Linked DNA regions of Homo sapiens: regions 2 and 3 are each reported to be linked to region 1. The links are microRNA targets in miRTarBase. Many come from high-throughput screens and were not tested one by one. Region 1 holds a microRNA gene; each other region holds the end of a gene's coding sequence.

Region 1 (4,000 bases):
CCAGGCACCAAGTAGCCCCAGCCATGACGCTCTGAGTAGTGCAGAGGGAAGCCATCCCAGGTAAGTGCCATGAGTTTAGGTGTGACCCGCATCTGCAGGCTGAGGAGGCTGGGGCCCGGGGTCCATGCAGGGTCGTCTAGCCGGGGGCAGAGCTTCCGGTACCATCTACGTCCCAGCAGGAAGACAGCAGTGTCACGATGGTAAGGGCAGTTGTTGGGGGGAAGGTTCTCTCTCTCACAATGTCCCCACCCACCCTCCAAAGCCCTGGGGCTTTCTGGTGACCCCAGCCTACAGCCGCCATCCCCTCCTCTGGGATGCTTTAGCCAGGACCCCCATGGAATCCTCTAGAAGAATATTTCAAAAGCAAAGACACTAAGTCAGTCCCACTGGACTAGTCAGAAGCCAGGACACAAAAGCATACCCTGACCCAGGGCAGGGCTCCTTCCCAAGCTCCATTTCATCCAGGGTAACTGACCAGAGGAGGGAGCAGATCTGCCCTCCCCACCCCTCTAGAGAAACACCAGTCCTTCTGGGTGCTCTCTTGCAGGCTGTTCACCAGAGTTGAGCCCAGGGTGAGACTAGCAAGGCACTCAGGACACTTGCTCTCAGGGTCTTGCAGGTGCAAAGCTGGCACCCTGCTGCTCACCCTGGCTGCCCTTTTTCTCATCTCTGCCACCCTATGAGGCTCAAAGGAAGGGGCACCTTCTCAAGGAAGCCTTCTTGATTTATTTCCCGAGGCAGAGTCAGAACTCTACCTATGGACACTAGCTGCACTGGCTGGTCTACGTGCCTGGCTCCTCCTAGGAAAAAGAACTACTGGAAAGGAGGAGCTATGCTCCAGTGTGTACACCCGGTGGCTGCCACGGGCCATTGCACAGCAGGTGCTCACAACACTGTGCTGAATGAGTCCAGTGAGCCGGTCCAGAGTGAGCAAATGAGAATAGGACTGGAAGACAGTGTGACTGAATGGCAGCAGGTCAATAAGTATACATGTGCATGATGCCTCTGTGCCAGAACCCAGACCAGGGCTGTCCTGAGAATGGAGCAAGGGTAGACTCTAGATACACTGCTGGGGGTGGGCAGGGCTCACCCAGGGTGTCCAGGAAGGTGCTGGGGCCGCTTGGGCAGGAGCTCTGTGGTCCCCTTCAGCTTCTGCAAGCAGGCGCGGGCCATGACATCTTGTTGAAACTCCTCCTCCTCACTGCAGGGGCCGAGGTCTGTGAGGGTGGGGGAAGACAATCAGGAGCAGGAGAAGGAACTCTCAATAAGATCTGCTCCCACCCGCTCATCTCCAGAAGGCTGGAGCAATCCTTTCGAAGGACCCCCTCAATCACAGGACCTTCCCAGAGACAACCCCTACCCTACCCTACCTCCCACCCATGCTCCCCACCTTCCTGATCCATGGGATCACCAGGGGCCCCAGCCCCCTCGATGGGCAACTTGCTGGCTGTGGCTGGTTCCTTCTTCACCTTCTTAGCTTTCTTCTGCTTAAATTCTTGCAGGTCCCACTCCAGGTCCCAGAGCCAGGGGTCTTCTTTGTACCTACAGAGCCAGTCCACTAGGGCAGGGCTAAGGCTAAGCCGAAGGCTAGGCCGCCCACCTGCCAGTCCCCTGCCTAGATCCTGCCCACCCAAGGCCTGGCTACCTCTCTCCTGAGAGCAGCTGGCAGGCATCATTGGCCAGATCCATCAACGACTTCTTCATCTCCCGCTGGAGCTCCTCATAAGTGCCCTGTGCCTCTGCCAGGTAACGCTCCCAGTTCTGGTTGACAGGCAGGTAGGAGACACCCATCTCCAGCATGCCGGCCAGAGTCACTGGGTGGGGACACCTTGGAGGCAAACACCAGGAGCTGCCATAAATGACCACAGGAGGCAAGACTGGCCCAATCCCTGAGCTGGTTTAGCAAGCCTCAACCCAGCCACTGACATGGCACAGCTCAAAAGTCAGACGGCATTAAATCCCAGCTCTACTGTTACTCATCCCTGGGTAAGCAACCCCATCTCTCGGAGCCTCAGTTCTTTCATCTATAAAATGGGAACAATATCATCCCATCCTCAGGGGTAATGTGGGAAATATAGATGGCAAAAGTGAAAATGGCTGCCACACGTGGAGTAATGACTCTGTGCCAGGCACTGTGCTAATAATCCCATACATGAAAAACATCATGCCTGAACCTCACAACTTGGGTGGTAAAATACAGCTGACATTTAAACAACACATGTCTGGATCGTGCAAGTTCACTTACACATTTATTTTCTTCAGCCTTAGCCACCCGAGACAGCAAGCCCAACCCCCGCCCTCAGCCTACTCAACGTGAAGGATAGATATCTTTATGATGATCCACTTCCACCTAATGAATAGTAAACATATTTTCTCCTCATGATTTTCTTAATACATTTTCTTTTATCTAGCTTACTTTAAGAATACAGTATATAATACGTATAACATAAAAAATATGTATTATGTTATCAGTAAAGCTTCTAGCCAACAGCAAGCTATTAGTAGTTAAGCTCTGAGGGAGTCAAAAGTTACACCCAAATTTTCCTCCCTTCTTTTTTCTTTCCATATCTTTGGTACAAATATACCTGAATTTTCAGCATACAAGGGTCACTTCATAAGACAGACTCATTAATAAACATAACCACGCTGTATGTGAAGCCCTTGGCTAAGGATCTAGTTAGAGAAGGTGCACAGTAAACCAGGACCGTGCACATGACACACAAGCACAACTCCATGGCCCTCCCCTTCAGGGCCTCTGTCAAATCCAGAGTCCAGGGCCCAGATGGACACCACTGAACAGAAGGGCTCCATTCTTTCAGCCTAGAAAAGCTAAGGTCCCCAACCTGAGATAGAACCAGCGCCACCTGATTACAGTGGGCCCGGGTACCAGGAACACACTGACCCCCAGAGATTCCCACATGGGCTCCCCCTCACCTCTCCAAGAAGAGCGGTAGCTGCTGCTGGAAAACCTCATGGGTGGCCCACACGTCCTGGGCACAGTACTGCATCAGGTCCTGGCACAAGGTGACAGGAAGGCGCAAGGTGGGCAGCCATCCCATTACCACCACCAGCTCTCAGGGTCAGGCCTGGCAGCTGCATCTCCCCAAGTGCAGCTAGGGGTGTGCCACAGCCCATGTCCCCAGAGCCCCCTCCAGCACCATACCTGGAAGTTCTCACGAATGTCCTTCATGGTGCCCTTCACAAACAGTTCTCGAGGCTCCTTCTCTAAGGGAGGCCCCCCTACATAAAGTCTGTGCACCTCTGCCAGACTGTTGACACTGCTGATGTCCAGCCAGTCCCAGGATGAGATCTGGGGAACCAGAGCAAGGGACATGGCAGATCAGCCTGGCCTCGGGCCAGACGGGCTGGTGAGAGGGGGTCCCAAGCACTATGCTCCTGCCCACCGGCAGTGTGCTCTCACCGCTGGGCCTCTTCTGGCTTTCCTCTGGGACTTCTGGCCTTGCTTTGTGGGGGGCTGGACCTTGTGTTTGCCCTGCTTGGCTGCTATCCACAGACTGCGCTGGAAGCTGCTTAGCCCTGAGATGGCCATGTGCATGCTCATGGTGTCCAGGAAACGCATGCGGGAACCCTGAGGAGGAGGAGGAGAAAAGGGAAGGGAAGGAGGGAGGCTGCAACTGTGGGGCCAGCCCACCACTGCTTGGTGGTGTGGACCTCCAGCCCCACCTCAGCTCCTCAAACAGCCTCCCCTCCCAGCACACAGCCTTCAACACCAAATACAGAATCCTCATGCTTGTTCATGCTTGCCCCATCACCTGTAAGGGGCCTGCCTTCCCAAATCCTAGCCACCCTTTAAGATGCAGGCCTGGCTCAATCCCAATGTGCAAGTCCTTCTCAGCTTCCAACAATAGCTCTGAGCAACGTAGATACAGAGTGGCCAAAATAAAGCCTTCAGGGCTATCTGGTCTGGCCCCAACCCTGCCACTCAAAAGCTCTGTGGCCCTGAGCATGTCAACAAGGCTGTCTGAGCCTCAGCACCCTC
Region 2 (4,000 bases), not on the chromosome of region 1:
CAGCCACGTCCTCCCGAGGCCATTGCCGAGGACAGGCACTGGGCATGCAGCCCCACGGCCTCCCCGACCCAGGGCGACAGGCTCAGGCCAAGCTGCCCGTGGTGGGAGGGCGTGCTTCCATCCCGGGCTGGCCCCCATGGCCCTCAGCTTCCTCCCTTCTGCCCCTGCCGCAGGCCGGACGGGGCCTTCGGCATGTCGGCCCCGACCTGGTGCTGTCAGACTCCCGCATCCTCTCCCCCAAGCCCTTCCCGTTCTGCCCTGCCCTGCCAAATGTGAAACCCTGCTGTCTCCCCCACCCTCCCCAAAGGTGTCTCTGAGCCGCCTCTTGGGGCCACCAAGGACAGGGCCATGTTCTGTCCCCCCAGAGCTGGTCTTGGGATGGCCGTGTGACAGGCATGCTCCACCCCTCCAGCTTCGTCCTGGGGCAGGGCTCCCTCCAAGCCTGTCTCCCCACTCCCCGGCCAGAGGTCAGCAACCACAGAAGGCCCCCCAGACCACGCATGGCAGACCAGGCTGCAGTGGCAGCCCTGAGGTGCCCCCCGCCGAGTCCCAGGGCCCTGCAGGGGCCTCGACAGGAGCCGGGCCTATCTCTAAAGCAGAGGGAATGGCTGGGCATGAACTTCGACATTCCAAAACCCCAAGCCAGGAAAAAGGGCAGGGCCTGGTCCTAGGGATGCTTACTGGCAGCAAGAGCAGTGCCCAGTCAGGGTGGGAGGTAGCACCAGGCTCTGTGACCCTCACCCAAGTGGGGGGGTGGTCAGTGGAAGCTGGGGAGGCTTCACTCAGCTCAACCCTGCAGACCCCCCATATGAGAACCCCCCTCCTCCCACCAGCTGGGGGAGATGACATCACTGCTCTCTCCATGGGGAGGGGGCTCACAGGGCACCAAGTTCGGGATCCTAGGACTGGCAGGACCTGCTGGAGCCTGAGATGGGCCCCAGGGGCCTGAGGTTGCCTCCTCCTGTCCAGACCCAGCCTTGGCACCTCCCAAGACTGCCAAGGGCCCTACCATGGCCCCACAGCCCCCAGGGCTGGCAGTTCCATCTAGGAGGGTGCCTCTAGGCCCCACTCTCAGGCTAGGATGGAGAGGCAGATCTGGGCCTGGTGAGGTGACCTGCTTCTGGAGGGGCAGGGCCGCACCCGAGAGCAGGGACAGGTGCCCGAACACAGGGTCTCCAGGACGTAGCGCCCCCCCGCATACTTGAATGTATGTGCGTATTTATTGCTCACGTCTGTGCCATGTTGTCAATGGGTCCTTTCCAACCCAAGAGGTACATTTGTTTTTCTGTTTTTCCTGAAAAATAAAGTCGGCCAAGTGAGTGTGGTCCGTATGGGCTTAGTCCCGGGTGGGGGCCTAACCCGGTAAGAGGCTGCACTGTGCAAAGTGTCCACAGATACCCACTGTCTGGGCCCTCTGAGACCTCAGAGAGATGGAGTTCCCACTGCATTTAACCACGGGGGAGCTGGGGCACAGAGGGGTGAAGTGGCTGCCTGCTGTCACCACTGATTCCTGCACCCCTACCTCCTCACGCTCCCAGCCCCTAGGGAAACAGAGCATGCTCTGAGCTGACACTCACGTGGCCGGGACCAGCCCCCAGAAGCAGCAGCCCCCAGGTCAGCCCCACGACCCCCTGAGGACCCAGCCTGCTGCCGCCCACCCAGCACCCGGGGGAGGGAGGTCCTTTCCTGGAGTCTGATCCGGCTGGGCTCAGGGTCTGGACACTGAGCCACAGTGGAGGAGCCGACGGCAGATCTGCAGTCTTGGGGCTTGTCTGGGCGCTGCTTGTGGTGGGTGGCACCCCCACGGGGCCCCCGTCAGGGGACACACAGGTGCGCCGGGCAGTCCTGCTGCCCCTCGCCACAGCCCACCTGGCCATGTTGGCAGCCACAGCCTCTGTGCTGGTTGACTCCGTTGCCTCCTCCACCCCAGAAGGGGCCTTGGGAACCAGAATCAACGTGTACTCCAGGTCCAGGGTCCCAGCCAGCTTGCGTGTGGTGGTACACGCACACAGGGTCCAAGTAACCGTGCAGGGCCCAGGACCGCGCACAGCCAGGGAAGCGCAGCAGTGCCGCCCACGCTACTGGCTGGGACAGCCTCTGAAGGTGCGGCCGAGGAACCTGCTTGGAGAGACGCTGTGACGAGGGATGCCCAGGCCAGCAACCGTGCCCGGGAGGCAGGGATGTCCTGGGGCGGGGGGGTGTAGAGTGGCAGGAGATTAGGATGGCAAAGCCCCTTGCAGAAACCTGGCTGTGGGATTGGGGCTGCGGGGAGGGAAGGGCGGAGGGAGACAGGGTCCAGGGGGCCTCAGGCAGGAGCTGGCGGGATGCTTCTGGCACGCGGGGGGTAGCCATAGGTCTTCTCTAGGAACGTGCCAGCCTTGGGAAGGATTTCCCTCCAGGGCCAGCCTGGGCCCAGAGGTGCTGGCATCAGACAGAAAAGACATGGTAACGTCCACATCCCAACTACCAGCCGCCATCTCCCCATCCGTAAGAGGAGGGGTTGGCCCAAGCGGCTCTCCTTGCTCTAATTCTGCACTTCCAGGTCCAGACGGCTCCCTGGACCTCCCCACATGCTGGTCCAGGCCCTCTGGAGGCAGTGAGGCAGCCAAGCCAAGCCCAGCCCCACTGCACTTCCAAGCCCCCAAGAGACCCCCAGCCAGTGCCTCCATGGAGGAGCAGGCCTGGGTGCCGGTGGCTCAGCCGAGAAGAGGACAGTTTCCACAAATGGCACAGAAGGCTCTGGGTGGGAATAATAGAGGGTTGTTGGCTGAAAGAAGGACAGGGGGTAATCGAGGCAAAGCCCACGCCACAAGCACACTGGGAACGATGCCGCCGCGCCCCGGCCTCCCACGGGCCGGATGTGAGCTGGCAGTCCTGGCCGTGTCCCGCTGGGAGGGGCCGCACTGGGTCCCTGTCGTGCTCAGTCCTGCCTCCACCTCCCACCTCGCCCCATTCTCTTCCCTGCCGGAGTGTGGCGGGTGATGAATGCTGAAGGTTACGCTGCCCAGAACGCTTCTGCAAATAAACAGGCTGCTGTGTTTGCTCGCTTTCATAAACACGGGAACATCCTGCGCACAGACAAGGCTGGGAGACAAACCCCACACACCTCGGAGGGCCCTGGGGACGTCCAGAGCGCTGTCCACCGAGGGAAGGAGGCCCAGGTGGCTCCCCCGGGAGGGGTCTGGAGCTCCTAACACACGGCCACGCCATAGCTGCTCGTCCTGCCTGGGCCAGCAGGCAGCCTGGTTTGCTCACTGTTTCGCCGACGGCCGGCGGCCGAGGACCAGGGCTCAGGTCTGCACTGGCTCACGGAAGGGAGGCCGCCAGAGCTGGCCAGGGGGGCGGCAAGGGCCTTGCAGAGGAAGGCTGAGGCTCACAGGGGTGGTGACCTGCTCAAAGTCACGCAGCGACAGCCAGGAAGGGCTCTGACGCCACATCCAGCCCCCTTTCCACGCGACTGTGGCCTCTGTGGGCAAGAGCTGGGTGACTCTGTGTAGAAGGAACTGTGGTGAGGCGAGAGGTCCTGCGGCTCCTATGTCCCACCCAGCAGCACCAGGGATTCAGAGCAATCGTTCTAACTCCAGAAAAAGAAAGGCCACGAGGGCCACAGGCCCCAGCATCTGGAAGTAATGTCTGTTTATTGATAGAAAACAGGCCACGTCCAGAGAGGCCCAGGGCCAAAACCTCCTTCTGGAAGGCCGAAGTCCCACAGTGCCGGGGAGCGCAGGAGTCAGCTCGGCTCCGTCTTGCCAGGGCTGGGGGGACCCTCATCCTCACCCGCTTCCGGAGCTGCAGTGGATGTGGGGGCCCCTGCAGCCTCCAGAACCAGTTCCAGGGCCCCCTCGCCCGCCACACGGTGCACCTGCTCGCCTCTGGCCGTCAGGATCTCTTCGATATTTCTGGGGGGCAGGGAGGCAACATGGCTCTTCAGGGCCCCCCAGCCGCCCTGCACTTCAGTCCCCTCAGGGCGCCCCATGGCCAGGCCAGAGCTGCAAGCACC
Region 3 (4,000 bases), not on the chromosome of region 1:
ACTCCACTAAATATCCACTGGGGGTTGTAAGTATCAGCGAATGAAGAAGCATGAGATGCTTTAAGAGGAAAGAGGGAGGGAGGCATCACCCACACAACCTGCAAGTCACACCTGTGTCAAATTCCTGGGGCAGATGGAAAATACACAGCATCAGACGCTGGGAGGCGAGTCCAGGAGCAGCCAGGCCGCCCAGCCCAAGCATTGCCCAACTGTAAACGGGCGAGGTGCCCTCCCACTGATTCGAGGCGCAGCCATCACACAAGAGACAGGGCTTTGTGACACCACCCCGCACCCAACCAAGTCATTCTCATGACTGTGCTCAAAGTGTGGACACAGCTGGAGGATGGGGGCCAACAGGGTAAAAGAGTTTTAAGTTTATGGTTAAATTTTCCAGTTGTACGATGCCAATTTTCATAAAATGTATAATTTGCTGTGTTTCAGTGGAAAAAGAAAAAACCAGAGCCAAAGGTCTCTACGCAGTGTGGTGCTGCGCATCAGGCAAACAGCGAAGAATCAAAGTGGGTTCTCCCCGCTCACACCTCCCTCTCTTCCCGGAGACGCCTCCCCTCGGCCCAGCAGGCCCTTTTCTGCCACTCCCATCCGGAGTCATCCCCACGGGCGGTGGCCCCGACCATGGCCCGGGAATCTGAGCAGGTGCGTGGATGTGGGTGGTGTCTTCTGCAGGAACCCCTCCACATCCCTGCAAACACCCCAGGTGCTCAGGAAAACCGAACCTCAGAGGAACCATACCAAGAACTGGGAATGCAGAAATGGAGGGGACGCGGGCCCCCCTCAGTGAGTGAACCGCCCAGTGGGTTCTGACATTCGTCTGAACATCCTATAAACAAACGCATCCCGGGGAGGTGCTCCAGCAAAGGCAGACACAAAGGGCCATGCCCAGAATACGGAAAACAAGCCCTCAGCAGATTCACTGACACCCTGTTCACAGCAGCATTCAATTCACATTCGCAGGAAGGCAGAAGCAACTCAGTGTCCACCAACTGATGAACAGATAAACAAACCATGCCTCTTCCACACAATGGGACATTATTCCGCCTCAGAAAGGAAGTTAGTTCTGACACCTGCCACGACACCGATGAACCTAGAGGACATTGCATGAGGTGAAGTACTTCAGTCCCAAAAGGACCAATACTGTGTGACTCCATTTCTGAGGGAGCTCGGGTAGTAGAAATCAGAGAGTGGAAGCTGCTGCCTTCTACCAATGGGGAGCGAGTGCTGAATGGGGACAGAGTTTCAGTTTGGGAAGATGAGAAAGCTCTGGAGATGATGGTGGTGGTGGCACGACAATACGAATGTGCTTAATGCCACACAACAGTGCACTTAACAATGGTTAAGATGGTACGTTTAAAATTAAACATTTTTATCATAATAAAAAACTTGGAGGGGCCAGGTGTGATGGCTCATGCCTGTAATCCCAGCACTTTGGGAGGGTGATGCAGGAGGGTCACTTGAGCCCAGGAGTTTGAGAGCAGCCTGGGCAACACAGTGAGACCTCATCTCTGCTGAAAATAAAAAACTAGCTGGGCAGGCTGGCGCTCACCTGTAACCCCAGCTACTTGGGAGTCTGAGATGGGAAGATCACTTGAGCCCAGGAGGTTGAAGCTGCAGTGAGCTGTGATTGCACCAGTGTATTCCAGCCCGGATGACAGAGCGAGACCCTGTCTCCAAAAACAAAACAAAACAAAAATAAAAGAAAGCGAAGCTTCAGAAAGGAAGGCAGGAGGTGTCTAACACAGGGGACACCTGAGGCTAGCAGGCACTGGGGGCCAAGACCCACACAAGCCCACCTGAGCCTGGGAAACACAGGGACACCACACACAGAGGACACCAGGGTATGTCCCAACTGAGCGTGGCCAGCAACCAGGGACTGGGCAGTGGTGACAAATACCACACACGAGGAAGACAGGTCAAGCAGGGTGCCCGACACCACGAAATGATTGCAACCATCTCTCCAACTACAGCTTAGAAGCAGAAATAGCAAAGGAGTTTCAGCCAGATGTTTCCAGAGCCTCCTCTGACACTTTTATCAAGACAGGGCCCATCAAACCTGAGGGTTCAAGGTCAGTCGTGTCCTTGAGGGTGAAGGCACTGGAGCTAAACCAACCAGAAAGCCACAGAGACAGTCACACGGAGCCTCTTCTTGGTGACACTGGGTACTGTCATCCAGCACGGTCTAGAGATAAACGCCAAACCACTCCACTCCTGCCAACTGTAAACCTCAACAGCCATAGTTTACTTTCTATTTAATCTATCTATCTACCTATCTTCTATCTGTCTATTTAGAAACAGAGTCTCACTTTGCTGCCCAGGCTGGAGTGCAGTGGCACGATCATAGGTCACTGCAGCCTTGAACTCCTGGGCTCCAGCGATCCTCCTGCCTCAGCCTCCCGAGTAGCTGGGATTACAGGTGTGCACCATCATGTCCGGCTGATTTTCTTATTTTTTGTAGACACAGGGTCTCGCTATGTGGTCCAAACTGATCTTGAACTCCTGGGCTCAAGTGATCCTCCCTCCTCAGCCTCCTGAGTAGCTGGGTTTACAGATGTGCACCACCACGTCCTTTTTATTTTTTGTAGAGATGAGGTCCTTGCTATGTTGCCCAAGCTGGTCTTGAACTCCTGGGCTCAAGTGATCTTCCCCCCTCAGCCTCCCAAAGTGCCAGGATTGCAGGCATGAGCCACCGTGCCCAGCCTTAATAGCCATAATGTATTAATATTTATTTATTTATTTTGAGATGGAATCTCACTCTGTCACCCAGGCTAGAGTGCAATGTCGCGATCTCAGCTCACTGCAGCCTCTGCCTCCTGGGTTCAAGCAATCTTTCCATCTCAGAACTCCTGAGTAGCTGGGACTACAGGTGCACACCACCACACCCGACTCATTTTTTTTTTTTTTTTTTTTTTTTTTTTTTTTTTTTTAGTAGAGACAGGGTTTCACCATGTTGGCCAGGTCTCAAATTCCTGACCTCAAGCGATCCTTCTGTCTGGGCCTCCCAAAGTTCTGGGATTACCTGCCTGAGTCACCCGCCCGGCCTTAACAGCCATAATTTAAACTAGACAGTATGGGAACAGCTGGAGTTAGAAATCCTAGAAATCCTGCTTCTGTAACTGACCGGTTTACCTCTGACTTGACTTCAAACAGGAAGCCCTGAAGATTGACCTTTTCAAGTACAACACTTAAACAAAGAACTTTCCCTCTGGAAGGATTTGTCGGCTACCCTTCCAAAAACAGACAGGTGCGGCCTGACTTCAAGTGCAGGCCCCGCCCTCCTCCGGTGAGTGGCCCTAGCCCTGGAGGCAGCTCCATCAGCCTCAGCATCCCCTCCCGGCGCCCGCACGCTCAGAAAAACCACAGGAGCGGGCGAGCGGGCGAGCGGGCGGGCGGGTGGGCGGGCGGAGGGGAGAGGGGATATTTTACTCCAGCATTCCCTTCCACATTTCGTATTAAATACCTGAAATATATTAATCTTAAAAAACAATATCGATACAGTACTCAATGGATAGAGGCAGTGGAGTGAACAAGAAGCCCAGATTGCAAAATCGTAGGTCATAAAAAAACTGGAGTGCGCGTGCGTCAGGTTCCAGGCACGCGAGAAAAAGCAACGCGAAAGCTTTCAGTCTCGGAGGAGGTTTTCGGGCTTGGGGTAGCCGAAGAGAACAAAGTCGGCCTCGTAGAGTTTATACAGCTGCTGCCTCCAGGCCAGGGGGATCTTGGCGAACCAGTCCTCCTCCCAGCTGCTGGCGGTCCTGTTCCGGTAGCTCGGGGGGAAGCGGAGCTGCCGGTCCACCTGGAGTAGCTGCAGCAGCTGCGCGGCGTCCTCGTCCAGAGTCTCCAGCTTCCCCACGAAGTCGTAGTCGATCTGGCACGGGTGGCAGAGGCGGTACACCTGCCGCCAGTGCTCGTTGAAGGGCGCCAGCTTCTCCGTGTGCGGGTCCAGCAGGTACTGGATGAAGTTGGCGAAGGACACCTTGAGGCCAGC

Evidence for each region. Region 1 holds the annotated microRNA hsa-miR-6766-5p (CGGGUGGGAGCAGAUCUUAUUGAG, at 1,261-1,284, opposite strand). A microRNA usually pairs through its seed, bases 2 to 8, with sites in the 3' UTR of a target mRNA and lowers its output. Matches are read on the target gene's strand: a 7mer-m8 pairs with bases 2 to 8, a 7mer-A1 pairs with bases 2 to 7 and ends in A, and an 8mer does both.
Region 2: miRTarBase lists DNLZ as a target of hsa-miR-6766-5p. Seed matches in the 3' UTR shown: 8mer at 2,741-2,748, 7mer-A1 at 1,790-1,796 and 7mer-m8 at 1,345-1,351.
Region 3: the mRNA of CHST12 is a reported target of hsa-miR-6766-5p. Seed matches in the 3' UTR shown: 7mer-m8 at 3,404-3,410 and 7mer-A1 at 666-672.

Annotation. Positions count from the first base shown.
Region 1 is chr15:89,325,522-89,329,521 of GRCh38, forward strand. It overlaps MIR6766 (microRNA 6766), which reads right to left and starts at 1,289; the gene lies at 1,218-1,289. POLG (DNA polymerase gamma, catalytic subunit) reads right to left here. Exons shown (of 23, transcript NM_002693.3): 4 at 3,422-3,589; 5 at 3,164-3,310; 6 at 2,935-3,014; 7 at 1,646-1,828; 8 at 1,391-1,542; 9 at 1,091-1,217; 10 at 1-165.
Region 2 is chr9:136,358,282-136,362,281 of GRCh38, forward strand. It overlaps DNLZ (DNL-type zinc finger), which reads right to left. Exons shown (of 3, transcript NM_001080849.3): 3 at 1,202-3,899. The coding sequence ends at 3,731. GPSM1 (G protein signaling modulator 1) reads left to right here. Exons shown (of 14, transcript NM_001145638.3): 14 at 1-1,320. Among named protein-coding and RNA genes, the nearest start is that of DNLZ, 3.5 kb to the right of the region's middle.
Region 3 is chr7:2,433,519-2,437,518 of GRCh38, reverse strand. It overlaps CHST12 (carbohydrate sulfotransferase 12), which reads right to left. Exons shown (of 2, transcript NM_018641.5): 2 at 1-4,000. The coding sequence ends at 3,635. Among named protein-coding and RNA genes, the nearest start is that of CHST12, 32 kb to the right of the region's middle. RefSeq lists an enhancer at 3,600-4,000.